Regions from separate parts of the Homo sapiens genome. Here regions 2, 3 and 4 are each linked to region 1. Evidence: fine-mapped expression QTL. A gene starts in region 1. Each other region holds a variant in brackets. All regions are shown on one strand. Distances are between the middles of the regions.

The links. PIP is the estimated chance that this variant, and not a neighbour inherited with it, causes the effect.
Region 2: its variant is fine-mapped to the expression of BSCL2 in macrophages (Alasoo 2018, PIP 0.95).
Region 3: its variant is fine-mapped to the expression of BSCL2 in whole blood (TOPMed, PIP 0.97).
Region 4: its variant is fine-mapped to the expression of BSCL2 in whole blood (TOPMed, PIP above 0.99).

Annotation. Positions count from the first base shown.
Region 1 is chr11:62,704,355-62,712,438 of GRCh38, reverse strand. It overlaps BSCL2 (BSCL2 lipid droplet biogenesis associated, seipin), which reads left to right and starts at 5,015. Exons shown (of 11, transcript NM_001122955.4): 1 at 5,015-5,330; 2 at 6,822-7,138. The coding sequence starts at 5,244. GNG3 (G protein subunit gamma 3) reads right to left here and starts at 4,763. Exons shown (of 3, transcript NM_012202.5): 1 at 4,524-4,763; 2 at 4,045-4,144; 3 at 3,238-3,761. The coding sequence starts at 4,143. The coding sequence ends at 3,633. HNRNPUL2-BSCL2 (HNRNPUL2-BSCL2 readthrough (NMD candidate)) reads left to right here. Exons shown (of 24, transcript NR_037946.1): 14 at 5,115-5,330; 15 at 6,822-7,138. RefSeq lists enhancers at 2,342-2,981, 3,112-4,311, 5,631-6,304 and a silencer at 5,972-6,311.
Region 2 is chr11:62,531,889-62,539,988 of GRCh38, reverse strand. It overlaps AHNAK (AHNAK nucleoprotein), which reads left to right. Exons shown (of 5, transcript NM_001620.3): 2 at 3,422-3,520; 3 at 3,891-4,044; 4 at 4,799-4,986; 5 at 5,915-8,100. The coding sequence starts at 3,891. Among named protein-coding and RNA genes, the nearest start is that of AHNAK, 11 kb to the left of the region's middle. RefSeq lists enhancers at 1-284, 285-887, 3,466-4,665. The variant G/A (reference allele first, on the strand shown) is at 3,639.
Region 3 is chr11:62,543,287-62,551,386 of GRCh38, reverse strand. It overlaps AHNAK (AHNAK nucleoprotein), which reads left to right and starts at 4,581. Exons shown (of 5, transcript NM_001620.3): 1 at 4,581-4,727. RefSeq lists enhancers at 1-216, 3,944-4,474, 5,053-5,563, 5,564-6,074 and silencers at 4,430-4,599, 4,720-4,789, 5,070-5,119, 5,130-5,249, 5,780-5,909. The variant C/T (reference allele first, on the strand shown) is at 4,539.
Region 4 is chr11:62,755,134-62,763,227 of GRCh38, reverse strand. POLR2G (RNA polymerase II subunit G) reads right to left here and starts at 1,648. Exons shown (of 8, transcript NM_002696.3): 1 at 1,568-1,648; 2 at 1,324-1,433; 3 at 202-361. The coding sequence starts at 1,579. RefSeq lists enhancers at 1,440-1,639, 5,875-6,401, 7,780-8,094. The variant T/G (reference allele first, on the strand shown) is at 3,066.

The sequences.
Region 1 (8,084 bases):
GTGGGTAGTTATTAGTCTATTTAGTGCTTGCTTAGGCCAAGAGTCGAGCCATTGAAGTATAGGAAAATAAATTATAACTCACGACCTCTGTATTTGGCCTATGCAAAAACTAGTTGGATGCTTGAAGTTAAATGTACATTGTGGAGCCAAATAAGTATATTCATGAATAATTACTGCTAGGGGGAAAGCCCACTCATTCAACAGAAGTTTGATGGGGGTTATTTTCCAGTGAATCTGGAGAACGAGACGGTAAATTAAATTTACAACAGCGCCATTGCTTTTTTATTTTTTATTTTTATTTTTATTTTTTTTTTTTGACAGAGCCTCGCTCTGTTACCCAGGCTGGAGTGCAGTGGCACGCTCTCGGCTCACTGCAACTTCCGCCTCCTGGGTTCGAGCGATTTTTCTGCTTCAGCCTCCCGAGTAGCTGGGACTACACATGTGTGCCACCAGGCCCAGCTAATTTTTTTTTTTTTTTTTTCCTAGTAGAGACAGGGTTTCACCATATTGGCCAGGCTGGTCTTGAACTCCTGACCTCGTGATCTGCCTGCCTCAGCCTCCCAAAGTGCTGGGATTACAGGTGTGAGCCTCCGCTCCCAGCCACCATTGCATTATTAGCACTGAAATGATCCTAACGGCAGTTTCTAATAAATGGTCAGGGTCTTAAAGCTGAGATACCACAGGCTCATGACATCCAGTGTTCTGAAGGAGTAGTAGTATTGATGTAGATACTGCTCTAATTCCTACCCTCTGTATGTGACACGGATTCAGATACCCGGGTTTACAGTTTTGTACCCTGAAGGCCACCCTTAATTTTGGTAGCCATCTATTCTTTAGGACATTTAAGTTGCTGTTAGAGCTAATTAATCATTTTTTAAAGTGGTTAATCATAGCTCATGCCTGGTCTCTAGTTACTGCTTAAACCCCATTTTCCCACCTAGCGCTGTAGCCACGCAGTTATAATCTGATGGGTAGGAACATTGAGTGTGCAGAAAAATTGAAGAGAGGCGCTTTGTTTTGTTTCGTTTTGTTTTGAGACGGAGTTTCGCTCTTGTTGCCCAGGCTGGAGTGCAGTGGCACAATCTCGGCTCACCGCAACCTCTGCCTCCCGGGTTCAAGTGATTCTCCTACCTCAGCCTCCCAAGTAGCTGGGATTACAGGTACCCGCCACCACACCGGCTAATTTTTGTATTTTTAGTAGAGACAGTTTTCACCGGGTTGGCCAGGCTGGTCTCGAACTCCTGACCTCAGATGATCCGCCCGCCTCGGCCTCCCAAAGTGCTGGGATTACAGGCATGAGCCACCACGCCCGGCCGGCCAAAAAGAGGCTTTCTTAAAAATCAAGGTTACATTTATTAAACACTCTAATTTTTTTTTTTTTTATTTAACCATGTCTGAGCTGTTGTGGAAAATTTCACTTACTCCCCTGGAACTTGCCCAACACCGTGATACAGTGGGGGTGAGGGAGGCAAGGTGCTTGGTCCCTGCCATGCCACATTTGCCATTTAAGCATGTACAGTACAATCTATTCATTGGGTATTTGGGTGCCTGATATGTGCCATTATCAGGATACAGGGATTAAAACGGACCTGACCTGATTGATCCTTCCTGGAATTTTCACCGTGCCAAGAAGGAACTGAGGCTCCTCCGCAACAGAATGGGGGTAGGGTCCCACTCCAGGAGGGCAAACTTCTCCCGTTTCTTCATCTCTAGGATGAGGGAATTAATTAGAAGATCTCCAGGACTTCTTAGAGCTCAGAAGTTCCATCAACAGTAAAAAGTTGCTTGGGACACCTTAAGGTGACCCAAGTTCACTGGGTGTCCCTGGAATTCATGAAGATATCCTTAGGAGGCTAAGTTCAGTTGCTGGTGATAACAACCTTTCTTCCTTTGGTTTCCTTTATCCACTTTGCTGTCTTCTGTGCAAAGATACCTGGAAGCTGGAGGTAATGAGCTGTCCCTACTATTTCAAAGCAGCCTCCCTTCCCGAAGTATATCCAGGCACAAAACAGGAGCCAGCCTAGGCTTTTCCTGGGGAGGATGCGTCCCTGAGTTTAGGGGACCTCTAGCAGGAGCACACGTACTGGGATTGTTACGTTCTTTGTCTTGTCCCTGGTCCCATCTCGCCTCTGTGCACCCTTGGAAGGAAAAGATTCTAGGAGGCATTCTGGTGTTCGTAAACCTCCGCCATGTTTGAGTCCTGGAGATGACCATGACATGTTAAGCCTTAAGTTTGGTCCCTGCCCAGACAGCATGCTGGACTTTTGCAAGGCACATTAGGGGTGCGGCCACTGCTTTCTGGCTGCTGTGGCTGAATCGGCCTGAGGGGAAAATGAAAGCAAAAACAAGCCCCAGTTCTACTAGGAAACCCAAACTGAGCAACTTCAGGCTTATCCAGCTCCTGGGAAGACCAGGAAGCAACTGAGGAGCGGTGCACCGAGACGGACAGGGTCGGGGGTTAACCCCCTGCCGCTAATATTTCCGCTCCAAAGGGAGCCTCTCCTTTCTTGGCAAAATGTAGAAACCTAGATTCCCTCGCAAGATCCACGCGACCAGCGTCGGCCACGCTGTACTTCCTGGGGTCCCCTTGTTTAGTGATTCTTCGTTATGGCCGCCCGTGTGCCTTCGACTCAATCGGGAGGACACCGAAATCCAGATTTCGGGGTTGCAGGGCGCGGGCCCCGGCTTGGTTAGGGCAGGGGCAGCCATTTTGAGACCAGAAGAGGGCGGAAGGGACCATATTGAGAACGCCGGTTGCCTGGGGGCCGCCATTTTAAGAGAAGCCCTGTACGGTAAACTCCGTGACGTGGGGGCTGCCATGTTGGTACGGCCATCTTGGAATGGGAGTGGCTGTGGGCGCAGCCATCTTAGGTATAAAATCGGCTCCAGTCGCGGTAACTGAAGCCAAGCTCCGCCCCTACCCTCCTAAGAGTTCCTCTGCTGTACGACTGCACTCCCGCACCCTCCCCTAAATCCCCCCTCTTCGGCCTGTTTACCTTTTAACTTGGCTTCGTTGCACGTTTGTGTGTGTGTGTTTGCTCTTCGCAGCCTCTTGAGCGTCTTTTGTACTTAATTCTTACACTGTGGACGCTCTCTCGCGCCCGCCATCCCCCGACCCCTCTGATCTCCGATCCTTGACGATGTCTAGCCTGCATTGATTGGCCCTTTTCCCTGGGTATGGCAGATCTATTGCTTGATGATCCTCTCCCCCCAAGAATTCTAACACAGGAGCTGTCCTGAGGCTCTGGATGACTTTATTCTTCAAATGGCTTTACCCTCCCAGTAGCTCCAGGTGAGACTGAGAGCAAGAACCTGGCCCATCCCTCTCCATTGTCTGAGCAGGTCACCGAGGGAAGCGGGCAGGACGCGCTGGCAGAGTCTGACGGGGCCCTGCTGTGGGTGGAGCAAAGGGTGCCTCATATCTCTGGGGTGCTTGGGGTCGGCCACAAAGGTGGTAGGAAATGGGGTCGACAGATAGGTGAGGGTGGGCCTTGTGCTTCAGATAACCTCACATGGTCAGGCAAGGGTTAGGGATGGGATGCAAGGAGCCTAAGGGGCTCACAACAATTACTGACCTAAGGAAGGGCCCAGGAGAGGGAAAAGGGAGGAGTTGTGAGAAGGGACAGGGGAGCTCAGAGGAGAGCACAGAAGAACTTCTTCTCCCGGAAGGGGTTCTCCGAAGTGGGCACAGGGGTGATGAGGGGATCCTCACAGGCGTGGGCATCACAGTAAGTCATCAGGTCTGCTGCTGCCTTGGACACCTGGGACACAGCCAGGAAGGGTATTGTTAGCCAGGACCTCTGAAGGGGACTGCAGCCTCCCTCCCCAAATGGGTTCTCTTTTGCCATCTCCAGGGCTCCTTACGACTTGTCTTCTCCCTCATCCCCCCCAGAGGCCTGGGGACAGCTCTCTCTACAGAGCCCCAGACTCCTCCCCTGACCTCAGGGAGTGAAGGAAAGAACGCATCTCTTATCTTGAGCTTTGGGAACCTGCAGCACAGCACAGCCTGGCCAACTAATGGGAGCCAGCCAGGGTCCCACCTACCTTTATCCGACACAAGCTGGCTTCAATCTTAAGCTGTTCCACCATCTTGCGTGCTTGCCCAATACTCATAGTGCTGTTCACCGGGGTCTCACCTTTCATCCTGGAAAAAAGAGGGACCTCTCAGAGCACAGTCTCAGCTGGAGGCCCCCCTCCATGCTCACTCCACACCAACCTTTACAAGGCTGTGGTCATACCCCAATATTTTGTTCCCCTCCTATCCTCCTCCTCCTCCTCCAGTGGACTGTCTCATCCCTGTATTCCTCATGGAAAAAAATAGGGTGGGATGAGGTGCTCCCCAAACTCCCTCATGGCCTGGGCCACAGATCATTAAACCTTACACAAATGATTTAAGGCTTTTCAGCCCTTCAAACCATGTGTGTTCCCAGCTCTGAAGACCTCAACCAACCCTGATGAGGAGGGCACATCACCCCTGTCTGCTCCAGTGAGCCCCAACAGGAGAAAAACAGGCCATTACTTACCTGAAGCCACAAGCGGCAGTAGCAGCCCTGGGTGTAGGGTCAGTGGAGGGTACCAAAACCTTCTGCCTGAAATGGGTGCCCCACCCAGTAGGGAGTTGCAGCTGAAAGTATCTGATGCAGAAGCAGTGACTATACGAAAGGAGGCCCCTGGGGAGGGCCAGGCCAGAGGTCTGGTCTCAGTTTCTGCAGCTCAAGCACTGTCTGGATGGCTGGTACCTGAAGGATGAAGGATGCTAGAAGGAGCTGCTCAGATCCTGGAGCATACCAACTGCCTGGCCAGTGGGGGAGCCTAGCTGCCTGCATCCCTGCGCACACCCCCACTGTCGCTAGTTCACTGCCTGCCCCTCCCCCATTGCAGGCATCCTGACTCTGGGCTAGAGACCTCCCCAACAGAGCTGAGGCCAAGGCCGACTCCCCCTCTCAAATGGCGTGGTCTGGGCCTATGACGGCCCCTGCAGTGGAGTCTGTACTGGCTGCGGGGGACCCTGCTCATTTGAAAATCTGACATCAGCTGGGCAGTCGCCCCCCTCCTCCTTTCCTCCCTCTACTCTGACACAGCACTTAGCACCTGAATCTTCGTTTCTCTCCCAGGGACCCTCCATTTTCCATATCCAGGAAAATGTGATGCGCCACAGGTATCAGCGTCTGGATCGCCACTTCACGTTTTAGCCACAAGTGACTCAGTGGAAGATCCAGAGTCAACAGAGGCTCGTCAGGAAGATGTCTACAGAAAAGGTAGACCAAAAGGAGGAAGCTGGGGAAAAAGAGGTGTGCGGAGACCAGATCAAAGGACCGGACAAAGAGGAGGTAGGGGCCCTTGTGGGGACAGTCAGCAGAAATATACTGGAAATAGGTGGGCTGGCGTGAAGGGGGCGGGGGGATGGATTGGTTTTAAGAATTTCATTCATTTTGAATAGATTACTTCCCACGCCCGCAGCAGTGTGCAAAGATGTACACAACACTGGCCTTGCCTCTGAAGGACTTTATCTGGGGTGATTAGACGTCTACAAAATAGAAGACTGCCAAAAGCTAGTCTAGATAATGTGCTGTGGGGACTCTGAGGGAGAGTGTATCCAGTTAGGGTCAGAGGAGGTCCACAATGCTACCACGCTGGGAACAGGGCACTAATCTGCCTGCGCAACAACGCAAGAGGCCCAGGTTGCCGCAAACTGCAACATGCTCTAGGCGAATGCCCCCGCCTTAGATGCCTACAGGTCCTAGGAGCTGTGGGCGATAAAAATCAGCGCCAGCTGGATGACCGCCTCACTCGGCCGCTTCGCGGGTGAAATGGCCTGTGGTGAAGGTGTGCACGGAGGGCTGTGATTGCAGTCTCAAGGGAGAGCCGAGCGGAGGCTGCAGTCAGCGCATCCCCTGGGGCACATCTTGGGGCCTGCAGGGAGGCAGGCGTCTTTCCCCTTTGGTCACGGTAACCGGAGGGAAACCTGCCGCAGAGAGAGCCAGTGGCGAGCGCAAGGAGACAGCGACCTCGCAGCTCGGGAAGGCTCCGCCCCGTCCCGCCCCGCCCCGCCGTGCTGGACCCCGCCCTGGGCTGAAGCCCCGCCTCCCACGGCTACAAAAGCGGCCGGCGGAGAGGGGCGGGACTTCCCCGGGAGCCGGAAGTCCCGTCTCACGGTTGCCCTGGCAGCGCGCGAGGCTGGTGAGTCGGCAGCCCTGTGGCAGCCGGCGGGCTGGTTTCCATGGTTGCACGATTAGGTAGGGGCTCCGGGCGCTTTGCCCACCCCCGAGCTGGAGGGGACTGGCGGGAAGCGGCGGTTGGCTGCAGGGCGCTCCGCCGGGCGTGGGGTGTAGCCGTGTCGGTGAGCGAGCTCTGCTCGAGGCGGAGAGGAGAAACTCGGGAAGCAATTGTGGCTACTCTAAGGCTACTGGTTTCGAGTCAGGCCGTGCGACCTTAGGCAAGTCGCACATTCTCTCCGTGCAGCTGCCTAGCAGTGTGGATTCAGTATCACCGTGTGTGTAAAGCTCTTTCTAAGAATCGTAAGGTGCTTATTCTTTGTTATATAGCTGTGAATGAGAATCAAGGTGGTTTGTCCCAGCATCAAATGACTGGAGAAGGAATTCCACTGAGGAGATTTAGCACTGGGCGGGAGGGAACACAGTGGAGGAAAGGGAAGGGGTAATTGGCAGAGTGGCACAATCATTTGGAGAAAGGCCATATATATGAAACAATGACTTTGCTATCCTGCTATCTCTCGTTCCTCAAAGCCAGTCCAGTAAGCTGTTTTGTCCCCACCTCCCTGGGGAAAGGAGTCACTCTTTTCCCTCACCCTCTCTTTCCAGGAACCACCAGCTGCTGCATCCCATGGCCAGGGGTGGCGTCCAGGTGGCAGAGCAGCTAGGAACGCAAGGCCTGAACCTGGGGCCAGACACCCTGCTCTCCCGGCCATGGTCAACGACCCTCCAGTACCTGCCTTACTGTGGGCCCAGGAGGTGGGCCAAGTCTTGGCAGGCCGTGCCCGCAGGCTGCTGCTGCAGTTTGGGGTGCTCTTCTGCACCATCCTCCTTTTGCTCTGGGTGTCTGTCTTCCTCTATGGCTCCTTCTACTATTCCTATATGCCGACAGTCAGCCACCTCAGCCCTGTGCATTTCTACTACAGGTGAGAGGGGCCTTCTATCAAAATAGAGGACTCCTATGGGAATTGTAAGGCCCTTGGAGTTCATTCAGTTCAATCCCCTCATTTACAGATAAGGAAAACTGGAGCCAGGTGTGCTTCCAGGGCCTCTCAACTTTCACAGCCCAAGGCTAGATTTGGGTTGCCAGGGCTAGGGTTCTAGTTCTACCTCTGATTACTGAATTCTGGTTAAAAAAAAAAAAAAAAAAAGGAAAAATATCCACTTCTATCATTATGAGGATCAATTCTATTTTGGTTGGATCACCCCTCTCTCAGGGCCAATGTAGAATTTTGAGCCAACTCAACCCTTTAGTGCAGAACCAACCTGGCTTTCAGTAGAGGAGCTATTAGGAAAGCAGCAGTTTGCTTTTTACATTACTGCCTCTCAGTCCCTGAAAGTCGGCTACACAATAGAGATTATGGAAACATAAGATGAGTAGGCGCATAAACTTGCTTCCCAGAGAGTCTTGCGTCTTGACTGGCCCCTTAGGTTCCTTCTCATTTTACAAACCCTGCCAAGTGCCAAATTCTCTCTTTTTTGAGGTGGAGTCTCTCTCTGTTGCCCAGGCTGGAGTGCAGTGGTGCAGTGTCTGCTCACTGCAACCTCCCAGGTTCAAGCAATTCTCGTGCCTCAGCCTCCCAAGTAGCTGGGATTACAGGTGTGTGCCACCACATCTGGCTAATTTTTGTATTTTTAGTAGAGATGGGTTTTTTTTTGTTTTGTTATTGTTTTTGTTTTTGAGATGGAGTCTTGCTCTGTCGCCCAGGCTGGAGTGCAGTGGTGCCATGTCGGCTCACTGCAAGCTCCGCCTCCTGGGCTCACGCCATTCTCCTGCCTCAGCCTCCTGAGTAGCTGGTACTACAGGCACCTGCCACCATACCCAGCTAATTTTTTTTTTTTTTTTTTTTTTTTTTTAGTAGAGATGGGGTT
Region 2 (8,100 bases), 170 kb after region 1:
TGAGGGCTGGGACCCAAATGCAGAGAATGGGAAACCTGGCTACACAGTATCCCACGCCCCTCCTTCAGTATTCCCTTCAGTATTTCCATGCCCTTCCGCGGAACTGAATGGCCCAGGTCAGATGAGAGGGGAGTCCTTCCAGGCTGTGCCAGGACAGCAGGGCCACAGCCAGAGCAGGCAGGGTGGTTGGCAGCCCCACCTGGCCGGGAAGCCACTGGGTGCCCTGCCAGGGCCAACCTGCAGCTTCGGGTCCAATGGCTCCCGTCCTCACGGGCTATTGGATCGGTGTCTACTTAGGATGGTTTCTCCCCTCCTCAGGAACCACGTAGGTTGCATCTGTCCTGGGCCTCAAAAGGGACTTCTGCCCTGGGACTCTGCCTGAGGCCCTGGCAGGGAAGCCAACTGCCTGTCTGCAGGGCAGCCCTGGTTCCTCTGGCACCTGGGGGTCTGGCCCAGGAGGCACTTTGTCCTTGGGGTTTTAGGCTCAACCCTTTGCAGGTCTGGAGCTGTTGCAGCCAGCTGCAGTGACTCACTGGGGCGGGAGGGTGGGGCCGAGGTGTGGGCGAGGGTGAGCTGGCCCAGCTAGCTCTTTCCCCCTCGCTGGCTGCTGGCACAGCACCAGGATGCTGGGGTGAGCAAAGGGGCCCTGCTCCAGGAGGAGGACAGGGGTGTCTGGGCGATCTGAAGGAGTGGCTTCAGTTCTGTCTGAGAGATGAAGTCTGGAATCTGTTTTCCTTCCCTGCCTCTGCCTGGCTGCTTTTCTGCAGGGCTGGCTCCTGAGCACTGGACAGTGGGAGAGAATGTGCCATTTAAGCCCCAGCTTTGCTGTTTCTTGCTGGGAAGGGTCAGAGTGATTTCCTGTCGCAGCCTTCTCTGCAGCCGGAAGGGAGGAGGTGTTTTCGCCAGTTTGCACCTGAGCCCAGAGGCTCAGAGTCTTTGCTCACCTTGTAGCCAGCACCTGTGTTGACAAGGAGACACATTGTCCACACCGCGTTGTCAAACAGGAGGATGGCTGTCGGGGGCTGGGGTCTGTGTTTCTCTTTCATCCGTGTTGTGATCTGCCTGAGATAGGAACTGCTAAGTGCCCACGAATTCCCAAGAGACATAGTCTCATCCTCAGAGGTCACCTGTAGCACCTTCAAGACCCCATGTATATTTCATTTCCCCTAGAAGGCTCCCAAGCCTTCTGGAATATTCTGCGGCAAAATCGGTCACAGCTAGTGCACTTTGCTCATCATATGTATCTGTGACAGGAACTGAGTCTTAAATCTCCCTGTCTGGCACATGGGTGCGTGAGTGATGTGAGGTCACCGTCTAACGCAGCGTGTAATTAGGTGCTGGGCCCAGCTGTGTCCATCCCTGGCTGGTTCCGTCTGTAGTGCAAAGTATAGTGTTGGGCATATGGAGGCAGCCGGTATACATGCATTGATTGACTGTTGATACTTTCCGGATGTAAACGGCTGTAGGCGGGGCTTTGGCTTAGGTTCCCCATGACTTATAGTGTCCCCCACACCATTTCAATTGGTGGCTGCTGCCGCCATTTTGTGCTGTGGCTGTAGTCCGTGGCCCTATGCAGAGTCCTGCCTGGTGTCTTTCTAGGGCACCTGCAGATGACAGCTCACCTTGTGGCTGGAGGGCGAATTTATTACTAAATGCTTGCACCTATAAGGGCCTGGCTCAGGGCCTGGTGTGGCAGCCGGGAGGCCTGAACTCACTGTGGGCCAAGGTGGGCTCAGCTGGGCTCTAACCTCTGGGGCTTGGGCGGTGCCTGGTGGGGCCGGGGCCTCCTTTGTTCAGGCAGCTGCCTGTGGCAGGGCTCCCAGAGCTGCCAGCTGGTGAGGCACCCCCCTGGTCCTGGGTACTGGGTGAGACTGGGTGGCCCAAGTCTCTGTCTCTGAGGGAGGTGGAACACTGACATTCCTGCTTGGAGGCAGACTCTGAGGAGGCTCCCACCTGTTACAAGCAGCAGACCTGGGGTGGAGTAGGCAAAAGACTTACAGACTCGGTCGGCCGGGTGCGGTGGTCACGCCCGTAATCCCAGCACTTTGGGAGGCCAAGGCGGGTGGATCACAGGGTCAGGAGTTCAAGACAAGCCTGGCTAAGATGGTGAAACCCCATCTCTACTAAAAATACAAAAAATTAGCCGGGCATGGTGGCGGGCGCCTGTAATCCCAGCTACTCGGGAGGCTGAGGCAGGAGAATTGCTTGAACCTGGGAGGGGGAGGTTGCAGTGAGCTGAGATCGTGCCATTGCACACCAGCCTGGGCTACAAAGTGAGATTCCGTCTCAAAAAAAAAAAAAAGGAGTTACAGACTCGGGTCCAAGCCCAGCATAGTTGTGCTCTCATGTGTACCCCGGGTAAGCTGTTCTCTCAGAGACTCAGTCTCTGTCTGTGAAATTGGCACAGTAACATCTCCCTCTTGAAGCTGTGGTTGAGAATGTGGGTAGATGCTGGGCGTGGTGGCTCCTGCTTATAGTCCCAGCACTTTGGGATTGTTTGAGCCCAGGAGTTCCGGACCAGCCTGGGCAACATGGCAAAACCCCATCTCTCCAAAAATACAAAAATTAGCCAGTTGTGGAGGCACGTGGCTGTGGTCCGAGCTACTTGGGTGGGTGAGGCAGGAGGATCACTTGAGCCCAGGAGGTCGAGGCTGCAGTGAGTCGTGATTGCGCCCCTGCACTCCAGCCTGTGTGACAGAGCCAGACCCTGTCTCAAAAAAATAAAAAGAGGCCAGGTGCGGTGGCTCACGCCTGTAATCCCAGCACTTTGGGAGGCCGAGGCGGGCGGATCATGCGGTCAGGAGATCGAGATCATCCTGGCTAACACAGTGAAACCCCATCTCTACTAAAAATACAAAAAATTAGCCGGGTGTGGTGCATGGTGGCGGGCGCCTGTAGTCCCAGCTACTCGGGAGGCTGAGGCAGGAGACTGGCGTGAACCCGGGAGGTGGAGCTTGCAGCGAGCCGAGATCCGCTATTGCACTCCAGCCTGGGCAACAGAACGAGACTCTGTCTCAAAAAAAAAAAAATAAATAAAATAAATAAAATACATAAATAAAAAGAATGTGGCAAGAGTGTGCATGTGAAGCGGCTCCTGCCGGCCAGTGCTCTATTTTTTCTCCTTTATTGCCTCCATTTTCACAGATGAGGAAATGGAGGTTCAGAAAACTGAAGTGTCTTGGCCAGGGTCCCACAGCTAGAAGGAGGCAGAGCCAGGATCTGACTGCAAGTCTGGCTCCTCTGAAGCCCCTTTCTGCTATGCCGGGCTGGAGAGTCATGGACGAGTGGAATTGACGGCGGTGGTGGGGGTCGGGTTCTGAGCTGGCCTGGGTAGCAGAGGACCTGGCTATCCCTTGGGTAGAGACTTGGAGCAAGCAGACTGCCGACCGGAGTGCGAGCATCATCGTGAACTTTTCCCTAGGTTGTGACCGAGATTCCCGACGAGAGAGACTGAGGGGAAGAGAGGAAGGAGGGGCGGGCTCCTGGCAAGGCATTCGCTCCTGAGCGGAATCCTGCAAAGGTCAGTAGGTGGGAGAGGCAGAGAGAGGCGGAGGTGACGGGATGTGGGGAGGGTGGGCCCTGTGTGGATGGGAGGCTGGGGCCGTGGGGGACAGGGATGAAGGGCCAGCTACCTCCGG[G/A]TCCAGTTGCCTCTGCTGTCTCCTTTCCATCTTCTTTGCTGTGCCTTGGGAGAACTTCCACAGTGGAAGGACGTGAGACGAATTACCCCACCCCCAACACCTCACCTGGCAGGTGAGCCAGCTGCAGGGGCAGGTGCATTGCTGAGGGCCCCACTCCCTGGAGTTCACAGCGCCAGAGATTGCTAGCTTTCCCATGCCCTCATGTCCTCCCACCCCCACTGACCCCAGTTCCATTTCCTCACCTCATTCCAGATGGAGAAGGAGGAGACAACCCGGGAGCTGCTGCTGCCCAACTGGCAGGGTAGTGGCTCCCACGGGCTGACCATCGCCCAGAGGGACGACGGCGTCTTTGTGCAGGAGGTGACGCAGAACTCCCCTGCGGCCCGCACTGGGGTGGTCAAGGAGGGTGAGTCACCCCAGGGTGTGGACTGGGTGCTGGTGGTTGGGGGGTCGGTGGGGGTGTTGGAGGGAAGGGCAGGGAGCAGGCAGAAGTGGGTGAGTGGCTGTCGAGGGCCCATTCCCAGTGGCATCAGGGTGGTTGGTACCCAAGCCCTGCCCTCCCTTGGCCACTCTGTGTCTGTCACTTGTGGTCCTCAGGGGAGGCAGCTGTGTGGGGTAGTGGACACCTGGTCCTCAGATCTGACTCCACCACCCACTAGCTCTGCAGATTTGGGCAAATGAGTTGGCCTTTTTTTTTTTTTTTAGATGGAGTTTTGTTCTTGTTGCCCAGGCTGGAGTGCAATGGCGCTATCTCAGCTCACTGCAACCTCCGCCTCCTGGGTTCAAGCGATTCTTATGCCTCAGCTTCCAGGGTAGCTGGGATTACAGGCATGCACCACCACACCAGACTAATTTTGCATTTTTAGTAGAGACGGGGTTTTTCTATGTTGGTCAGGCTGGTCTCGAACTCCTGACCTCAGGCGATCCACCTGCCTCGGTCTCCCAAAGTGCTGAGATTACAGGTGTGAGCCACTGCACCTGGCCCCCACAAATTGGCCTTTCTAAGCCTCAGTTTCCGTGTCTGTACAATGGGTATTACCATGCCCACCTTGCAGGGTGGTCATGAGTTCAAGTCAGTTCAGTGCCCAGTGTGTGGTGGCTGTGTGCGGTTTCCCTGAGGCTCTTTGGGCCTTACCTGCTTCCTGCTCTTCCCTGCTCAGGGGACCAGATTGTGGGTGCCACCATCTACTTTGACAACCTGCAGTCGGGTGAGGTGACCCAGCTGCTGAACACCATGGGGCACCACACGGTGGGCCTGAAGCTGCACCGCAAGGGGGACCGCTCTCCCGAGCCTGGCCAGACCTGGACCCGTGAAGTCTTCAGCTCCTGCAGCTCTGAAGTGGTTCTGGTGAGTACCTCGCCGGCCCATCTGTGCCCTGAGCTCCCCCGGCCATGCCGGCCTGCTGACCCCACTCCTGAGCCTTCCATGTGCCTCCGGACCCTCTCTTTTTGCTCCTTCTTCTCCTCTCACCTGTCTTCACTCTCTTGAGCCCTTGGCCACCCTGTTTCTTTCCGCTTTCGTGTGACATGTGGCTGTGCTCCCTCTAAATGTCTTCAATCAGTCTCTTCAGAGCGGCCACAGTATGGGAACTGACTTGTGCAGCCCGGCCCTAGATGCTAGGAGGAAGGTCAGCTGCTTTGCAAGAATCTTTGAAATGACTTCACAGGTGCCCAGCTCCACCTCACAGACACCATTTTTCTCTCTGCAGAGGCCTGATACATTCTGTGGGTCAGACGCTGGGCAGCAAAGTGCCTGTGGGGACATTGGTCCTTCTGATGGCTTGTTTATTTAACAAATAATGGGTCCTCAAAGTGAGACTGTTAACCCAAGCACAACCAGTCTCTTAGGCTCAACGAGTGCTTTCAGGGTCCAAGGGCCTCTGAGAAGATTCCCCTCCTGATTAAACAAACAAGCCAGTGGCTTGAGAGTTGGGAGCTGAAGGGCCTGGTCTCTTGGGAGGTGTCCCTGGCACAGGCTGATTTGAATCTCTAACTGAATGGAAATCCTCCCAGTCCAAGAGTATACCTCCCACTCCCTCCCCACGGTTTTTGCTTAGCGGTATGACCTCCAGAGAATTTCTGATTTCCTCCTGTGATGTGGCTGTCAGCCCCTTTCTTCACTCCCCTGTGCTGTGCCCCAGGAGGCTCCATGGACCTCTGTTTTGGTCCCAGCTTCTCTGGGAAACAGGCAACGTGTTGTCGGCTGGGCTGTGGCCGGGCATCTGCTAACTCAGGCAGACTCTGCTGCAACCTCTGCCCGGCGTGTCTTTCTGCAGAGCGGGGATGATGAGGAGTACCAGCGCATCTACACCACGAAGATCAAGCCACGGCTGAAGTCGGAAGATGGAGTGGAAGGAGACCTCGGGGAGACCCAGAGCCGTACCATCACAGTGACCAGAAGGGTCACGGCCTACACTGTGGATGTGACTGGCCGGGAAGGAGCCAAGGACATAGACATCAGTAGCCCTGAATTCAAGATCAAGATTCCAAGACATGAACTGACTGAAATCTCCAATGTGGATGTGGAGACCCAGTCTGGGAAGACCGTGATCAGACTGCCCTCGGGCTCGGGGGCAGCCTCTCCGACAGGCTCTGCTGTGGATATCCGAGCAGGGGCCATTTCTGCTTCAGGACCAGAGCTCCAAGGTGCTGGCCACTCGAAGCTCCAGGTCACCATGCCTGGGATAAAGGTGGGAGGCTCAGGTGTCAATGTCAATGCAAAGGGCTTGGACTTGGGTGGCAGAGGAGGGGTCCAAGTTCCAGCAGTGGACATTTCATCTTCTCTTGGGGGTAGGGCAGTAGAGGTACAGGGCCCATCTCTGGAGAGTGGTGATCATGGCAAAATTAAATTTCCCACCATGAAAGTGCCGAAATTTGGTGTCTCAACAGGGCGTGAGGGCCAGACACCAAAGGCAGGGCTGAGGGTTTCTGCACCTGAAGTCTCTGTGGGGCACAAGGGCGGCAAGCCAGGCTTGACTATCCAAGCCCCTCAGCTGGAAGTCAGTGTGCCCTCTGCCAATATTGAGGGCCTTGAGGGGAAGCTGAAGGGCCCCCAAATCACTGGGCCATCACTTGAGGGTGACCTAGGCCTGAAAGGTGCCAAGCCACAGGGGCACATTGGGGTGGATGCCTCTGCTCCCCAAATTGGGGGTAGCATCACTGGCCCCAGTGTGGAAGTTCAGGCCCCTGACATTGATGTTCAGGGGCCTGGGAGCAAACTGAATGTGCCCAAGATGAAAGTCCCCAAGTTCTCTGTATCAGGTGCAAAGGGAGAGGAAACTGGGATTGATGTGACACTGCCTACAGGTGAAGTGACTGTTCCTGGGGTCTCTGGGGATGTCAGCCTGCCTGAGATTGCTACTGGTGGGCTGGAAGGAAAGATGAAAGGTACTAAAGTGAAGACTCCTGAAATGATTATTCAGAAACCTAAAATCTCCATGCAGGATGTGGATCTGAGCCTTGGGTCTCCTAAACTGAAAGGAGATATTAAGGTTTCTGCTCCTGGGGTGCAAGGTGATGTTAAAGGCCCTCAAGTGGCACTTAAAGGCTCCAGAGTGGACATAGAGACACCAAACCTAGAGGGAACCTTGACAGGCCCTAGGCTTGGCAGTCCTTCCGGGAAAACCGGAACCTGTAGGATCTCTATGTCAGAAGTAGACTTAAATGTGGCCGCACCTAAAGTGAAAGGGGGTGTAGATGTCACACTCCCCAGAGTAGAAGGGAAAGTCAAAGTCCCTGAAGTTGATGTCAGAGGCCCCAAAGTGGATGTCAGTGCCCCAGATGTCGAAGCGCATGGCCCAGAATGGAACCTGAAAATGCCCAAGATGAAAATGCCCACGTTCAGCACTCCAGGAGCCAAAGGGGAAGGTCCAGATGTTCATATGACTCTACCCAAAGGAGATATCAGTATTTCAGGGCCCAAGGTCAATGTGGAAGCCCCAGATGTCAACTTGGAGGGTCTGGGGGGAAAACTTAAAGGCCCCGATGTTAAGCTGCCTGATATGAGTGTCAAGACACCAAAGATCTCCATGCCTGATGTAGATTTGCACGTGAAAGGTACAAAGGTGAAGGGAGAGTATGATGTAACTGTACCAAAGCTGGAAGGAGAACTCAAAGGCCCAAAAGTGGACATTGATGCCCCAGATGTGGATGTTCATGGCCCAGACTGGCACTTGAAGATGCCCAAGATGAAAATGCCCAAATTCAGTGTGCCAGGGTTCAAAGCAGAGGGCCCAGAAGTGGATGTGAACCTGCCCAAGGCTGATGTGGACATTTCCGGGCCCAAGATAGATGTTACTGCTCCTGATGTGAGCATTGAGGAACCAGAAGGGAAATTGAAAGGGCCCAAGTTTAAGATGCCTGAGATGAACATCAAAGTCCCCAAGATCTCCATGCCTGATGTGGACTTACATCTGAAAGGCCCTAACGTAAAGGGAGAATATGATGTCACAATGCCAAAGGT
Region 3 (8,100 bases), 160 kb after region 1:
GCCTATAATCCCAGCTACTTGGGAGGCTGAGGCAGGAGAATCGTTTGAACCCAGGAGGCAGAGGTTGCAGTGAGCCAAGATGAGCCAAGATCGTGTCACTGCACTCCAGCCTGGGCGACAGAGCTAGACTCCATCTCAAAACAACCACCACCACCACCACCACAACAACAAAACAACAAAAACACCCAAAACATAGTGTGTCGGGGGGGTGCTGGCGGGGGAGTAGCTGTGTAAATTACCTGGTAGGAAAGATAACTCCAATTCTCTGGAGGCATAGGACCTCCAAGGAATTCAAAGGACAAGGTAAAGGGGTATCGGAGCCGTTTCCGCCTGGACTGAGCTTTTTGCTGGGATTCCATCTTGCCAAGGTCTCTATTGCTTCCACCACCACCACAGTTCCCCAACCCCATATTGGACACACAATAAATGTTTGGGTAGCTGCAAGAAAGACCCACAAGTAGAGGAATTGCTCCCTGGGGGCTGAGAGCCAGAGGAAGTTGTGACAGCCTGGGATGCAGGATGCTATCTATTGTAGAAAAGGCAAGGGCTTTGGAGCCAGTTATACCTGGAGTTCATTCATTCATTTGAAACATGCTCTTGAGTGATTGCTATGTGTCAGTCAGTGCTCTAGGCATGAGGGGCCAGGGTGCGGTGGCTCACACCTATAATCCCAGCACTTTGGGAGGCTGAGGTGGGAGGATTGCTCAAGCCCAGGAGTTCAAGACCAGCCTGGGCAACATAGTGAGACCCTATCTCTACCAAAAAAAAAAAAAAAAATTAGCTGAGCATGATGGTGTGTGTCTGTAGTCCCAGCTACTTGGGAGACTAAGGTGGGAGGATCACTTGAGCTTGAGAGGTTGAGGCTGCAGTGAGCCATGAATGCTCCACTGCACTCCATCCTGGGCGACAGAGTGAGACTGTCTCAAAAAAAAACAAGCAAAAAACCAAAACAAAACAAAAAATCAGTTAATCTAGGCACAAAGCATACAGCAGAGAAGAAAGAACCCTGTCCTCATGAGGCTTAAATGCTAGCGGAAGCTTTGACTCTTGCCTCTGTGAGTTGTGTGATTTTAGGTAAATCACGAACCCTTTCTGAGACCATTCCTCACTAAGTGCCTCCCTCCCAGGGTGTGCAAGGATTAAATGAGCTGACAGATGAAAGTAGCTCCTGACAAAGTGGCTCACACCTGTAATCCCAGCGCTTTGGGAGGCTGAAGTGGGCAGGGATCACCTGAGGTCAGGAGTTCGAGACCACCCTGGCCAACATGGTGAAACCCCATCTCTACTAAAAAATACAAAAATTAGCCAGGCATGGTGGCACACGACTGTAGTCCAGCTACTTGGGAGACTGAGGAAGGATAATCACTTGAACCCAGAGGTGGAGACTGCAGTGAGCCAAGATCACGCCACTGCAGTCCAGGCTTGGCAACAGAGCGAGACTCCCTCTCAAAAAACAAAACAAAACAAAACAAAACAAAACAAAAAAAAAACCAACGAAAGTAGCTGCTGCAGGATCAGACACAATCATATTAAGGTAGTTTTGGGAGGGGGTGTGGGGGAGGCTACACCAGCGGGCAGAAGGAGAAGAGTTGGCAGAAGTTTCTAAAAGTGTGCGTTTCTCCACTTAACACCACTGAAAACTTTTGAAAATATTCCCCTCCCTTGGGCTGAGGTGGCAGTCTTAGGAAACCCCAGCTCTGTTCCAGCCTGCAGGATCATTTTTTTTTTTTTTAGACAGAGTCTCGCTCTGTTGTCAGACTGGAGTGCAGTGGCACGATCTCAGCTTGCTGCAACCTCCACCTCCTGGGTTCAAGCGATTCTCCTGCCTCAGCCTCCCGAGTAGCTGGGACTACAGGCGCACACCACCATGCCCGGCTAATTTTTGTATTTTGAGTAGATACGGGGTTTCATCATGTTGCCCAGGCTGGTCTTGAACTCCTGACCTCAGGTGATCCGCCTGCCTCGGCCTCCCAAAGTGCTAATTTTTATATTTTTAGGAAAGACGGGGTTTCACCATGTTGGCCAGGATGGTCTCGATCTCTTGACCTCATGATCTGCCCCCGCTCAGCCTCCCAAAGTGCTGAGATTACAAGCGTGAGCCACCGCCCCCGGTCAGGATCATGGTTTTTTAGAGGGTAGGGTTGAGGTTAAGCCTTCTCTAGCCCTCCAGTCTGGAATGGGACAAGAGCCAGTCCTCAGAACTACCCCCCGACCAGGTAATCTTGACATTCATATCCCTGAATGAAGTACCTGGTCAGTGATCTCTGCTCTGGGGCTGCTTCAAAAACCAACCTCTCCCTCCTGCCTTCTTCCCTGTTGACCAAGAGGGTGGCCAGAACAAACAATGGAGCAGATAAGTTGGCTCTGAGCCTGGGACTCTGGCCTCTGCTGTTTGGATCCTGGGGGGCCGATCTAGCCCAGTCGAGGCGAAGACACAGCGTCCACGCCTTTCCGTGCTCTTCTTCCTTTTCTGCTCTAGCAGCCCCCCACGCCCCCTTAGCCCTTTTTGCAGATACCCTGTGTTTCCAACCTAGGTGTGAATCAACTCCTGTTTTAATATGCACTGGGAACATTCGCTCTTTCAAGGAACGAGATGATGATTCATTCCATAAAGTTAAAAATCCTTTGGTAAACTGTTAACAATGGTTACTTTTGGGAAGAGGGACTGTGATAGGGGAGGAGGGAGAAGTCTGTGTTTTATTGTACTTTTTTTTTTTTGAGATGGAGTCTCGCTCTGTCACCCAGGCTGGACTGCAGTGGCACGATCTTGGCTCACTGCAACCTCTGCCTCCCAAGTTTAAGGGATTCTCCTGCCTTAGCTTCCCGAGCAGCTGGGATTACAGGCTGCGCCACCATGCCCTGCTAATTTTTGTATTTTTAGTCGAGGCGGGGTTTCACTATGTTGGCCAGGCTGGTCTCGAACTCCTGAGCTCAAGTGATCCACCTGCCTTGGCTTCCCAAAGTGCTGGAATTACAGGTGTGAGGCATCGCGCCTGGCCTTGGTAATTTTTTTTTAAGTGTTCTATAGCTCAAAAGTTTTAGATTTGTTTTTTCTTTAAATAAGGTAGGTGCTAGGAAAGGGGTGCAGAACAAAATGGGGGAGCAGGTGATTCTTGGGAAAGTGTGAGTCTGTGACTGTGTGCTTGGGATGTGTTGTGGCGAGGCTGCCTCTGCCATGGGGTTGAGTCATTATCTGGGCACCTGTGTGTGTGTATTAGAGAGAGCAAGAGAAAATGCTGGTGCCCAAGTCTCCGCTTTGTGTTTTCACATGTCTCTGCCTGTCTGGATGTCTGCACATGCGGCTCCACCTTTCTGTGTCCATTATATGAGTGCCCATGTCTGTGGTTCCTCTGGCTGTCTCTTCCCTCCCCCACGGCCTGTACTCTGTGCCGGTAACTGGACCTGGACACAGCCCCCAGGGCTGGCAGCAGAGTTGACTGCTGGGTATTTTTAGCCTGTAAACATGTTTGCCATTTCAGAGGACAGGGCCGAGCTGGTCTCAGCTCCAGCCCACTCATGATCTTGCAGCAAGGAGGGCGCTCCTGCCTTGGCCAGGTCTCCTTAGTTCCCCAGCCTGGGGTCTCTCTTTCCTTAGCATTTGGGAAGGAGGGGAAACTGGCTTGGAGCGGGCAGTGGGTGGCCACCTAGGAGGGAGGATAAAAGGACTCATGAGGGAGAAGAGAAAGGGAGTGTGGAGGGGAGTGTGTAGCCAGAAGGCCCCCGCACCCCATCATTAAACGTTTAATAAAATCTCGATGTAGTTAGAAGTGGCTGTGGGAAATCGCTGTAAATTAGGAGACTCAGCGTCCCGCAAGTGGGGAGGCGGGGGCGGCGCTCAGAGAAGGAATGGGAGGCAGAGGAAGCGCTGGGGCTCTGGCTCCTGGGGGCGGGAGTCTGGAGAGGAAGGTGGGCGTCGGGTCCGCTGTCCAACGCCCGGGGTCCTCACCCCCGTATGCCCGCGGCCTGCGCAGCACCGCGGTGCGCGAGGCACTGGTGACCCCGGCTCCTGGGGGGTGGAAATCCAAGCCAGTTCTGTGCGGATATGGACGGAGGGGCCCCCAGAAAGAGAGAACGCGAGAAATGGGCGCGGCAGCACGGAGCTTGGGAACCAAGCAAGGAGGCTGGGGCCTGGGATCTGAAGTGTAGTTGCCTAAGCTGAGAGAAAACTCAAAGGTCCGGAGCAAGCTGACGGTCGCGGCTGAATCACCCAGCCACCTTCAGAGCCCCCAGGCCCTTCCTGCAAAATAAGTTGATTCGCAGTTCCAGCTGTGAGGGTGAGCCCAGGGAGCCTGCAGGAGTTTCTTGCCAATGAAGCCACACAGTGCACATGTTGGAGAGCAGGTCCAGGTCCGGGACAGGACAGGGGGCAGTGGATGCGGGGAGGGGGGGAAAGAATGTCCCCGCGTCCCCCAGCGGCCCCCCTCCCCAGCAGCCCACTCCCGGGTCCCTCCAGGGTCTGCCCCGCTCGCCAGTCCCAGCCCCGCTCCGGCCCCGCCCGGCCCCGCCCTCTCCCCACAGCTCCGGGCAGACCCGCCCGC[C/T]CGAGCCGGAGTTACAAGAGCCGCCTCCGCGCACGGGGGCCCGGCCACTCGGAGCTGCTCTGCCGCGGGGACTGCACCGCCCGCCCTGCCAGACCCGCCCGGAACGGGGCTCGTCGCCGCCAGTAGCCGCAGCACCGCAGCCTTGGGCCTCGCGCCGGCTATGGCCGTGCCCTGGGGCTGAGCCCTCAGGTAGGGGCGCCAGGCGCACCGTGGCGCCATCGGGGTCCGGGGCACCAAGGGCGGGTCGCGGGGAGGTGGGTTGCGGTGCTCCGGCAGGGCGCGTTGTTGGGGGTGTCACTGTGAGGATTCAAGCAGTTTGGAGCAAGCGGGGCCACCCGGGGCGGCGACGCGTCGCTCTCTGGGAGCGGAGTTCTGCCTCTGGAGTTGGGGCGCAAGTTGGTTAAAGTTGGAAAATCGCTCCGAAGTGCTTTGCTCCACTCTTTATTTCTCCGGAGGGCGGACTGTTGGCTCCACTGCAAGGCAGGGCGCCCCGTTCCGGGCCTGGTGGCCTCTGTCCCACCTCCTCTCCCTGCATGGGGCGGTGGCTCGGGGGCTGCTCCGTTCGTATCCCATGTTTACTGGAGGGGAAATTTCCGAGATCGCCACCGCGGCCCCCAGCGCCTCCGCGCCTCCGCGACCCCGCACCGTGCGCCCCCTCGGCTGTCCTTCCGCGCTCCCTGCACCTCTGCCCCTAACCGCGTCCCGAGTCGTCCAGGCCCCACCCTGTTCTGTACCACCAGCCCCTCAGCCTCCTCCAGCTGCCCCGCCCTAGCCTTGCCTCTCCGCGTTCCCCGCTCCAGAAAACCTTCCTCTCGGGCCGCGGAACCTGGAAGTTTGCAATGCGCCTCCCAGCGGGATGGGTGGGGAGGGGGACAAAATTAGGGAGATTCCTATGCTGAGGTGGGCGAGGAGGGGGGTGCGCTGCGGCGGCCCAGTCCTCGGGACCGCCCCTTCCCCTCCGGAGGCGGCGCTTTCCCCCCGCCCAACTCCCAAACCCGTCCGGGCGGGATGGCCCCCGCCCCAGAGCCTGGCCCGGCGCCAGCAGCCTGAGGAATGTGGTGGTTGGAGCCGGTGACTAATTCAAACCAGAACTCAGGGAGGAGTGGTGAGGGGCAAAGGGGAGGAGGAAGGGGCTGTGTGTGGGAGTTGGGGGCAGGAGCCGGGCTTGGCGTGGGAGGAGGGCTAAGCTGCGCTCGCTGGAACCCTGCGCTCCAGCGGTGCGCGCCAGGAGAGGGGGCCCGAAGCGAGGTCTCGCCTAGAGTTGGAAAGGCAGCGTGCTTAGGGTGTGTGCAGAGCTGTGTTATGTAAGGCTTTCCCATGCAAGGGGAGGGGGTGTGTGTGTGCAGTGTGCGAGGGCCTGGGCCGTCCCTGGCAGGGCTGGTCGCCCCCCAGCAGTGCCCAGGCCGGGATGTGGGGGCGCAGCCCCTTGGCGGCGCTGACCATGAGGGACTCCAGGGGCCCAAACAGGGCTGGCTGTGCCCCTTGCTGGGAGGGGTGCGGAGGGGGCAGATGGGTGTTCTCAGCTGTAGCCGAGGCCCCACAACAAGGTGGGGAACGGCTCTGGCCCCTCTGCACAATGAGGCCACTGAGGGTTGTGTGCGATGTGTGTGCTTGCCGGTTTCGCAGGGTGTGGCTCCCGCCGCGGCGACCGTGGCAGTGAGGTGCTCCCAGGGAGCGTGCGGTCGCTGCAGAGTGCCCTGCTCTGTGGAGGGGATTTGTGGAAAGGCAGTGTGGGAGCCTCCCAAGTCAGTCAGGTCCTTAGACCTCCGGAGTCTCCGGAGGAAAAGGGACCGAGATATCTACCTCTGTGTCTCCAGCACAGCGCTGGGCGCTCAGTAAATACTGGTTTCGAACCCGTCTTCATTAGAATCCAACCTCGGATTGCAGGGCTCCTGCTCTCTGCTTGCCCGTCCCAGCACAGCCTAGTGCATGGTAGGTGTTGGGTTGATTTTGTGGAATACAGTGAGGGGCTGCAGCAGTGAAGCTGAGAGTGGGGGAAGGCGTTTAAGGGCCCCTGCACCTATACTGGCTGTAATTCAGGGTAGAGATCTCGCTTTCATCCCCTCCCCGTGAGGGAAATCCCAGGGGCAGGGTGTGGCACTCACTTCCTTTCAGAAGCTGAATGGGGGGAAGCTTCCTTCTCCAGTCCTTAGGGACAGCGGGGTCACCCACCCCCCACCGCGTGGATAGTGGCCTGTGCAGAATGGGGAGGACAGGGGAGCCCCCAAGTTAGGGGCACCTCTTTGCTCTGAGCTGTGAGCTTTGGGGTGAGGGAGGGTGGGAGAGGAGCTAGGGAGGGTAAGAGTGGAGCTAGGAGAGGTCGCAGGGTTTGGGGGCTGTGGGAATGTGGGTTAGAGGGTGTCTGAGCCCCTCTCTAAAGCCTTTGTCCCTAAGAGGTTATGCACAGGGACACTGGTCAGAGAACAGGGACACATGGGGAGCCACATAAGTCATGCGGGCTGATATGGAGGCCCACAGCAGCGATTCAGGGGTCCTGGTCCGGGAACTCCTTGAGGAGCCAACCCCTCGGAGCTGAGGACTTGTGGCAGCCAGACATGGTCCAGGGCCAGGGGTGGGACACAGGGACCTGTTGAGGGAGAAGGTCCAGCGTCAGCCCAGGGTACGGAGTTGGCTGGGGGTCCCCGGAGTCATCTTAGCCCTCAGGAAGTCCTGGGGAAAGGTGGCGGTGCTGCCAGGCTGGATTCTTTTGCTCGACTTGGAATTGGCTGGTGGGTCCTGGCAGAGCCGGTCACCCTGAGCCTGAGGAGCTGGTTTGAGGGGTTGGGGCAAAGCCGTGGGGGCGGAGGGGTGTGTGGGGCTCTGGGGTGTGGTCACCACCTTCTTTAGAACTTGGGAACTGCCTGGAGACAGACAGAGAGACAGACCGGGAGAGCTAGTCCTACTCCTTATGGGAACAGTGTGGCTCTCTCCCCCACCATTCCCGAGGCCCCAAAGTTTCTCTCCCCGGAGCTGGGCTGGCACCGTGCTGTGCACGCTTAGGTTTGAGGAAGGGTGATGGCCGCTGGGGAGGATTTAGAATGTGCTGCTTGGGCGGTGGCAGTGGCAGGGATGGAGGGCCTTCTGACTTCTCTTCGTCCCCCATCGATTCATCCAGGCTGGCATTTCCCTGGGCTCAGGCCATCCGGTGGGACTCCCAAGGCTTCCTGAGCACGAGCAATTTCCAGCGTTCCTGGGTGTGCCCGAGGGAGTGTGGGGGGCACGTGGGTGGGCCACAAGAGGATTCCGAAGGAATGAAGCCCCTTTTCCTCCCTGCTGGCCTCAGTTCCCACCAGGGCTGTGGCTGAGCTGTCGCTGGCAGTCTTAGGTAGGTCACTGATAGCATTGCAGGTGTCGTCCCACTGTGGCTTTAGGTCCTTGTGACCACCATGTCACAGCTTGTCTCTGAGTGAGATGTGTGTCATTGCCTGTGAGAGAGTATCCCACTGGTTGTGAATGAAGGTCTTCCCCTTGTGGCGTGCCTGGATGTGTCACCTCTGCCTGCGTTGTCATCGGGCTTGGAGGCAGAGGATGGCAGTGGCATTCTGCTCTGGTGGTGGAGGTT
Region 4 (8,094 bases), 51 kb before region 1:
CCTAGGAGGCAGAGGTGGCAGTGGCCAAGATCGCACCACTGCACTCCAGCCTGGGCAACAGAGCAAAACTCTCTCAAAAAAAAAAAAAAAAAAAAAAAGTGAAGTGACTTAGCCAAAGGCACAGAGTTATGAAGTGGAGCCAGAACCCAACCCAGATCTTCCGAGAGACTACCCCACTGCCTCCCCTATGTATGGTCTCACCTTGTTGACCTGAGTGACAACAGCATCCACGACCTCCCCTTTAAATGGCCGGAAAACAATGGCCTTGTACTTAACTGGATAAAGGACAAAGCCTCGGCCTGGCTGGATCACACCAGCACCAATATTGTCAATGGTGGTGACAGCAATTACAAAGCCATACCTGCAAGGAGGATGAGAAACAGGAAGACACTGTGTGTCCAAGAGCCTCTAAAGACATCTGCAATAAAAGTCGCTGAGCTCTTGGGGGTAGGGTCGGGGAGAGCAAAAGGACAAGTAGATAGCACCTCTGCTCCCAGAGAGCTTAATGACCAAAAGAAGACAGAACAGAGATCAGTATGTGTAAGACCAAATGCTGTTCTGGTAATTTCACAATAAATGTCCAAGAAGGCTGGAGTCCTTGAGGCAACAGATCTCAATCTTCGGGATGCCTGAGAATCATCTTCTTAAAATGCAGATTCTCAGGTCTGCCCCAGACAGTCTTGATTCTGTAGGGAATAAGGAGGCTCAGGAATCTGCATGTTCCTGCAGGTTTTTCTGATGCTGGAGGCCCAAGTACTCCACTGCCCTGAGCTGGGTCCCAGCTCATTAATATCAGAGAGGCCCCTCTGTGCAAAGCCCAGAGATGGTCAAATCCCAGGCTACTTCCTTCCTCCCCCAAACTCTCGATCTGCTTTTTCTGGTCATTCATTCAGAAGATATATAGAGGCCCATGGTGTGTGGTCCCTGGGCACAGGGGATAAGAGAAAACCAGCAGAATGACAGAGGGAGAGCAGACACAGGAACAATGATTACACTGTGAGCTCCACAGGGGCTGTCCTCATTCTATCTTGTTCCCATTCTACCTTGTTCTGAGCCCAACACGGGTCCTGGCACACACCAAGGGTTTTTAAAATGTTTGAGGAGTCAATGAATGACCCATCTCAGCTGAGAGAAGGAAGTCTTATTGTCCAGCATTGCAGAGGGCGCCCTGGGAACCCAAAGCAGGAAGCAACTGGCTGCCTGAGAGAGGAGAGGGGTCCCCAGAGTGGGTGGCAGGACGAGTAGGAGTTGGGGAGGGGTTGCAGGTATAGCGCCCCGTGTGCGCATCGAACGATCTGGCGGTGCGGTGAGCTCGACACTCACTTCCCTGTGCAGGTCCCCTCCACCTCGGTGAAGAGCTTCTGCTTCACCGTGTTGAGCAAGTTGGGGCCGAAGTAGCGCGGGTGCAGCAGGATTTCGTGCTCTAGGGAGATCTGCGGAGAAAAGTGGGATGGCGACCAGGCCAGGCGCTGGCAGGTTATTGGACGACAAGGGGAGTCTCGCGCCGGCGCCTGGCCTTGCTCTTCCTTTCCACCCAGCCCTTGCCGCCACCCTGAGCCCTGCTCACATGGTAGAACATCTTCCCAGACCAGGTAGGCAGGCAGAGTCCACACCTCCGACAGTCCCTGGGAATCCACCGGAAACACTTAGACGCCGCAACCCCAGTTCCGCGCTTGCTGCGACTAGGAGGGCGGAACACCACCTCCTCCGCGAGGGCGGAACTCCACCAGCTCCGCGGGTCTGATTGGGCCTCGCCGTCGTGGGCGAGAACCACTAAGCCCCGCCCCTCACCCCCGCCCCCCAGCCATCAAACGACAACTTTTTTTTTTGAGGCGGAGTCTCCCTCTGTTGCCCAGGCTGGAGTGCAGTGGCGCGATCTCGGCTCACTGCAACCTCCGCCTCCCGGGTTCAAGCGATTCTCCTGCCTCATCCTCCCGAGTAGCTGGGATTAAAGGCATGTGCCACCACACCTGACTAATTTTGTATTTTTAGTAGAGATGGGGTTTCTCCATGTTGGTCAGGCTGGTCTCAAACTCCCAACCTCAGGTGATCCACCCACCTCGGCCTCCCAAAGTGTTGGGATTACAGGAGTGAGCCACCGCGCCCGGTCGGCAACTATCTGAATTGCTTGAACCTGGGAGGCGGCCCGAGATCTTGCCACTGAACTCCAGCCTGGGCAACAAGAGCGAAACTCCATCTCAACAGATAGATAGATAGATAGATAGATAGATAGATAGATAGATAGATAGATAGATAATAGATAGATAGATAGATAGATAGATAGATTGATAAATGCTACCACTTACTGCTTTCTTCCTAGATGCCTGGGCAACAAGAGCGAAACTCCATCTCAATAAATAAAATAAATAAATAAATAAATGCTATCACTTACTACTTTCTTCCTAGATGCCAGACACTGTGCTAAGCGCTTGATATAATTCTCTCCCTTAATTCTCATAATAATCTACAGAAATTGGTGTAGAAATAAAAAAAAAATGTTTACGAGCCTTAGCCAAAAGGCCAAGAAGCTACAGAAAATAATGAAATTTAGGCCGGGCGCTGTGGTTTACGCCTGTAATACCAGCACTTTGAGAGGCCGAGGCGGGCAGATCATGAGGTCAGGAGATTGAGACCATCCTGGCTAACATGGCGAAACCCCGTCTCTACTAAAAATACAAAAAATTGGCCGGGCGTGGTGGCAGGCGTCTGTAGTCCCAGCTACTCAGGAGGCTGAGGCAGGAGAATCGCTTGAACCCGGGAGGCGGAGGGTGCAGTGAGTTGAGATCGCGCCACTGCACTCCAGCCTGGCGACAAAGCAAGACGGAGTCTCAAAAAAAAAAAAAAATTTAAGAGCTATTGGAAGCCCAAAAAACACTTTAAGCCTCGAGAGAGATATGACTGCGAGTCACATATAGTTTACAACTTCTGTTCTCAGATTATAGATTAACTCTTTTTTTTTTTTTTTTTTTTTTTGAGACGGAGTCTTGCTGTGTCGCCCAGGCTGAAGTGTAGGAAATCCATGACTATTTCATCCTCTGTTAAAAAATGTTACATGCGCCGGGCAC[T/G]GGTGGCTCATGCCTGTAATCCCGGCTACTCGGCTACTGGGGAGGCTGGGGCAGGACAATTGCTTGAACCCGGGAAGCTGAGATTGCAAAGAGCCGAGATCGCTCCACTGCACTTCAGCCTGGGATGCAGAGCAAGACTCCCTCTCTCTTTTTTTTTTTTTAATAGAGACGGGGTTTCTCCATGTTGGTCAGGCTGGTCTCGAACTCCCGACCTCAGGTGATCCGCCCACCTCGGCCTCCCAAAGTGCTGGGATTACAGGCGTGAGCCACCGCGCCCGGCTGACTCCCTCTCAAAAAAAAAAAAAAAAAAAAAAAAAAAAAAAAAAAAAGTTACATGCAAATCACGAGATCAGAAGTTCAAGACCAGCCTGGCCAAAATAGTGAAAACCCATCTCTACTAAAAATACAAAAAATTAGCCGTGTGTGGTGGCAGGTGCCTGTAATCCCAGCTACTCCAGAGGCTGAGGCAGAAGAATGTCTTGAACCCGGGAGGCGGAGGTTGCAGTTAGGCAAGATCTTGACACTGCACTCCAGCCCAGGCAACAGTGCGAAACTCCAAATAAAAAAAAATTGGAAAAAAAAAGTTACATGTATACTTCCCAAAAAGAAACATTGTCTATAGCCAACCAAATTGCTATAACTATGTACCAATCTTCTGTGAAAAATGTAATCCTGCTAAAAAGTCATGTGTGCTTGCCTATATAAATGAAATCTTAACTTTCTTACTTCACAACACTGACTCCATTCTTCTGGAGTTGGTGGTTCCAGGTGTTCCATTCTCATACTTCGCACTTGAAAAAACTCTAAATTAGGTTCTGACCCGTCGGATTATTTTAGGTTGACACTGATACTATTATTATTCCTACCTTATACATAAGCCAGAAAAAGATTAAGGGGAGGTATTTGGGTATGAATAGCTGACCTGCTCCAAAGCTTGTGTTCCTTTTTTTTTTCTTTTTTCTTTCTTTCTTTTTTTTTTTGAGTTGGAGTCTCACTCTGTCGCCTAGGCTGGAACTTAGTGGTGCAATCTCGGCTCGCTGCAACCTCCGCCTCCCAGATTCAAGTGATTCTCCTGCCTCAGCCTCCCAAGTAGCTGGGATTACAGGCGCCCACCACCACGCCCAGCTAATTTTTTTTTTTTTTGTATTTTTAGTAGAGACCAGGTTTCACCATGTTGGCCAGGCTGGTCTCGAACTTCTGACCTTAGGTAATCCATCTGCCTCAGCCTCCCAAAATGCTGGGATTACAGGCCTGAGCCACTGCGCCCGGCCCCACCTTTTTTTTTTCTTGAGAAAGGGTCTCATTCTGTCACCCAGGCTGCCAGGCTGGAGTGCTCATTGCATTCCCCAGCTACAGGTATGGGTCACCATGCGCGGGTAATTTTTTATTTTTTGCAGAGATGTGGGTCTTACTCTGTTGACCAGGCTAGTCTTGAACTTCTGGCCTCAAGTGATCCTCTTGCTTTTGTCTCCCAAAGTGTTGGGATAACAAGTGTGAGCCCTCACACCTGGGAAAGTCGCATTCTTCACTACTGTAAACTCTACTGCCTGAGACTGAAACTTTGGATAAAAAAGACACCAAAGCAATGACAAGGATTGTTGTGTCTGCTCCTCAAAGTGTGTGCACGTAGAGCCTGAAAGCTCAGAACAGCAATTCTGAAGTTGTGGTCCCCAAAAGAACCTTTCAGGGGATTGGTGAAGTGCTCTTCTAGTTACATGTCTGTGTGAGACCAAATTTTCTTCATGTATTTCAATCAAAACAATATATCCTAATAGCTAATAGAAGCAGATGTGAAAATCGAGCTGTCTCCTATCGAAACAGTGTGATATTGTGAAATATACGTTTCTTTGACCCTATTTTCTGCCATACAACTCCTAAATCTCTAAAGTGATTTTTTTGGTATGCTAATGTTAACTGATGGCTGGCAGGCCCTAGGTAGCTTCCGGATGGGGGCTGGTCACCATAAAGAGCAGGGCATGATTGGAAGGTTGGGGTTTTCAGCCCACCCCCAACTTCTGGGGAGTGGAGGGGGTGCTGAACTGTTGAGTTGATCACCAATGGCCAATCGTTTCAGCAGTCATGCTTGCATAATGAAGCATCCACAAAAATCCAAAAGGACTGGGTTCAGAGATTCCACATAGCTGAACACCTGGAGGTTCCTGGAAGGTGGCACACCGGAAGAGGGCTCGGAAGCTCCACATCCCTTCCCCCATACCTCACCCTAGGCACCTCTTCATCTGCATCCTTTCAAATAGCCTCTATAATAAACCAGTAAAGGTAAGTAGGTGTTTCCCTGATTTCTATGAGCCACCCTAGCAAGTTAACCAAGCCCAAGTAGAGTTGTGGGGGCCTAGATTTACAGCTGGTCAGTCAGAGGCATAGGTAAAACAGCCTGGGGCTTTTGACTAGCATCAGAAGTCAGGGGCCATGTCTGGTAAACAATAATTTGATTTAAAAAAAAAAAAAAAGGAAGGGAGGGAGGGAGGGAGGCAGGGGAAAGAGAGAGACAAGAGAGAGAAAGAAGAAAAGAAAAAGGGGAAAAGAGAGAGAGAAAAGAAAGAGAGAGACAGAGAGAGACAAATAAAGAGACAAAGAAAGAAATAGAAAGAAAGGAAAGAAAGGAAGGAAGGAAGGAAGGAAGGAAGGAAGGAAGGAAGGAAGGAGAAAGGAAAAGAAAAGGAAGGAAAAGAAAAGAAATAAAAGAAAAAAGGAGAGAAAAGAAACTAGTACCGGGGGGCCGGTGGGGAGGGCGGTCTTGAGATCTGCACCCTAAACATTTGAGATCTGAGGTTATCTCCAGGTAGACAGTGTTGGCATTAAACAAGAGGACACCCAGCTGGAACTGCTTGCTTGTGGACTGGGGAAAAAACCAACACATTTGGTCACACAGTAGCCTTCTTTGTTGATTGTTGTGGTGGTGTGAGAGGAGAGAAAAACAGTGTCTCCCCCCAACCCCCCTGTAAAACAATGCCATTATTCTCACGACATATTTATTGATTTTGGTAAATAGTTATTTTTCCATCTCTATTTTAAAAAAATACATATATATATATATATATATATATATATATATATATATATATATATATGCCGGGGGCGGTGGCTGACGCCTGTAATCCCAACACTTTGGGAGGCCGAGACGGGCGGATCACCCGAGGTTGGGAGTTCGAGACCAGCCTGACCAACATGGAGAAACCTTGTCTCTACTAGAAATACAAAATTAGCCGGGTGTGGTGGCGCATGCCTGTAATCCCAGCACTTTGGGAGGCAGAGGCGGGTGGATCATGAGGTCAGGAGATCGAGACCATCCTGGCTAACACAGTGAAACCCCGTCTCTACTAATAATACAAAAAATTAGCTGGGCGTGGTGGCCGGCGCCTGTAGTCCCAGCTACTCAGGAGGCTGAGGCAGGAGAATGGCGTGAACCCGGGAGGCGGAGCTTCCAGTGAGCCAAGATCGTGCCACTGCACTCCAGCCTGGGCGACAGAGCGACACACTGTCTCAAAACAAACAAAACAAACAAATATAAATATATATGAGGCCAGGCAAGGTGGCTCATGCCTGTAATCACAACACTTTGGGAGGCCAAAGTGGGTGGATCACCTGAGGGGTCAGAACTGCAATGAGACAAGATCACCCCACCGCACTCCAGCCTGGGCAACAGAGCAAGACGCAAAAAAAGAAAAATAAATGAAAATTAAATTAAATTAAAAATTAAAAAGGTCAGGCTTGGTGGCTGACACCTGTAATCTCAGCATTTTGGGAGGCCAAGCTGGGAGGATCACGTGAGCCCAGGAGTTCAAGACCAGCCTGGGCAACACAGAGTCCCCCTTCTCTATTTACAACATATACATACATATATTTTTATATGTATATAATTTATATATTTATATTTACATATATGTATATATAAAAACATATATATATTTTTTGAGATGGATTCTCCTGCCTCAGCCTCCCAAGTAGCTGGGATTATAGGTGCCAAGCTAATTTTTATATTTTTATTATTATTATTTATTTATTCTTTTTTTTTTTGAGATGGAATTTCACTCTTGTTGCCCAGGCTGGAGTGCAACGGCACGATCTCGGCTCACTACAACCTCCGCCCCCCAAGTTCAAGTGATTCTCCCGTCTCAGCCTCCCAAGTAGCTGAGATTACAGACATGCGCCACCACACCCTGCTAATTTTTGTACTTTTAATAGAGACAGGGTTTCTCCATGTTGGTCAGGCTGGTCTCGAACTCTCGACCTCAGGTGATCCACCTGCCTCGGACTCCCAAAGTGCTGGGATTACAGGCATGAGCCACTGTGCCCGGCCCATTTCTTAGTTTTAATTCCTATACAGTAAATATTGTATGGCTTGTAAGAATGAACACAGTGTCTTGAAGAGGCATGATCTCAAGCTAAGGCCAACATATCCTGAATGTATGTAGCACAAGTTTGTTGTATAGATGAACTCTCCCTAATTCTGGTTAGGTCTGATCGGAGGGCCTGACTGCAGAATAAAGTAGAGATGCTTAGGGTGGTGGGTGAAGGAGTGAGGATTAGGGCACCGAGTTTACTCCTCTAGTAACACTACCTGGGTCAGACGGGGCAGTTATCAGTGACTCCCAACTTATAGCCTTTTCCTCTGGGTGTGTAGAGACTCTCAAAGATTTCTTCAGTAGACACGGTTTTTGCTTCTTCTCTCCTGTCCTGGGACATTTTATGATCCTGACCCCATTCTTACCCTTCCTACCAGCACCTGCTCAGCACGCTCTGGAAACAAAGAACACTCTATCCTCTCACTGTAAATTGACTGTAGAGTCCAGGCTAGGGACACCACGACATCATCCCTGTAGCTGCTAGTTCTTTCATGCCATCACTGAGCCGGGAGCCCCGGAAACTTAGCTTGGAGGAGTGGAGCAGTAGGGCATCTTAAAATGTTTTTTTGTTTGTTTGTTTTAGATGGAGTTTTGCTCTGTCTCCCAGGCTGGAGTGCAGTGGCGCTATCTTGGCTCACTGCAACCTCTGCCTCCTGGGTTCAAGA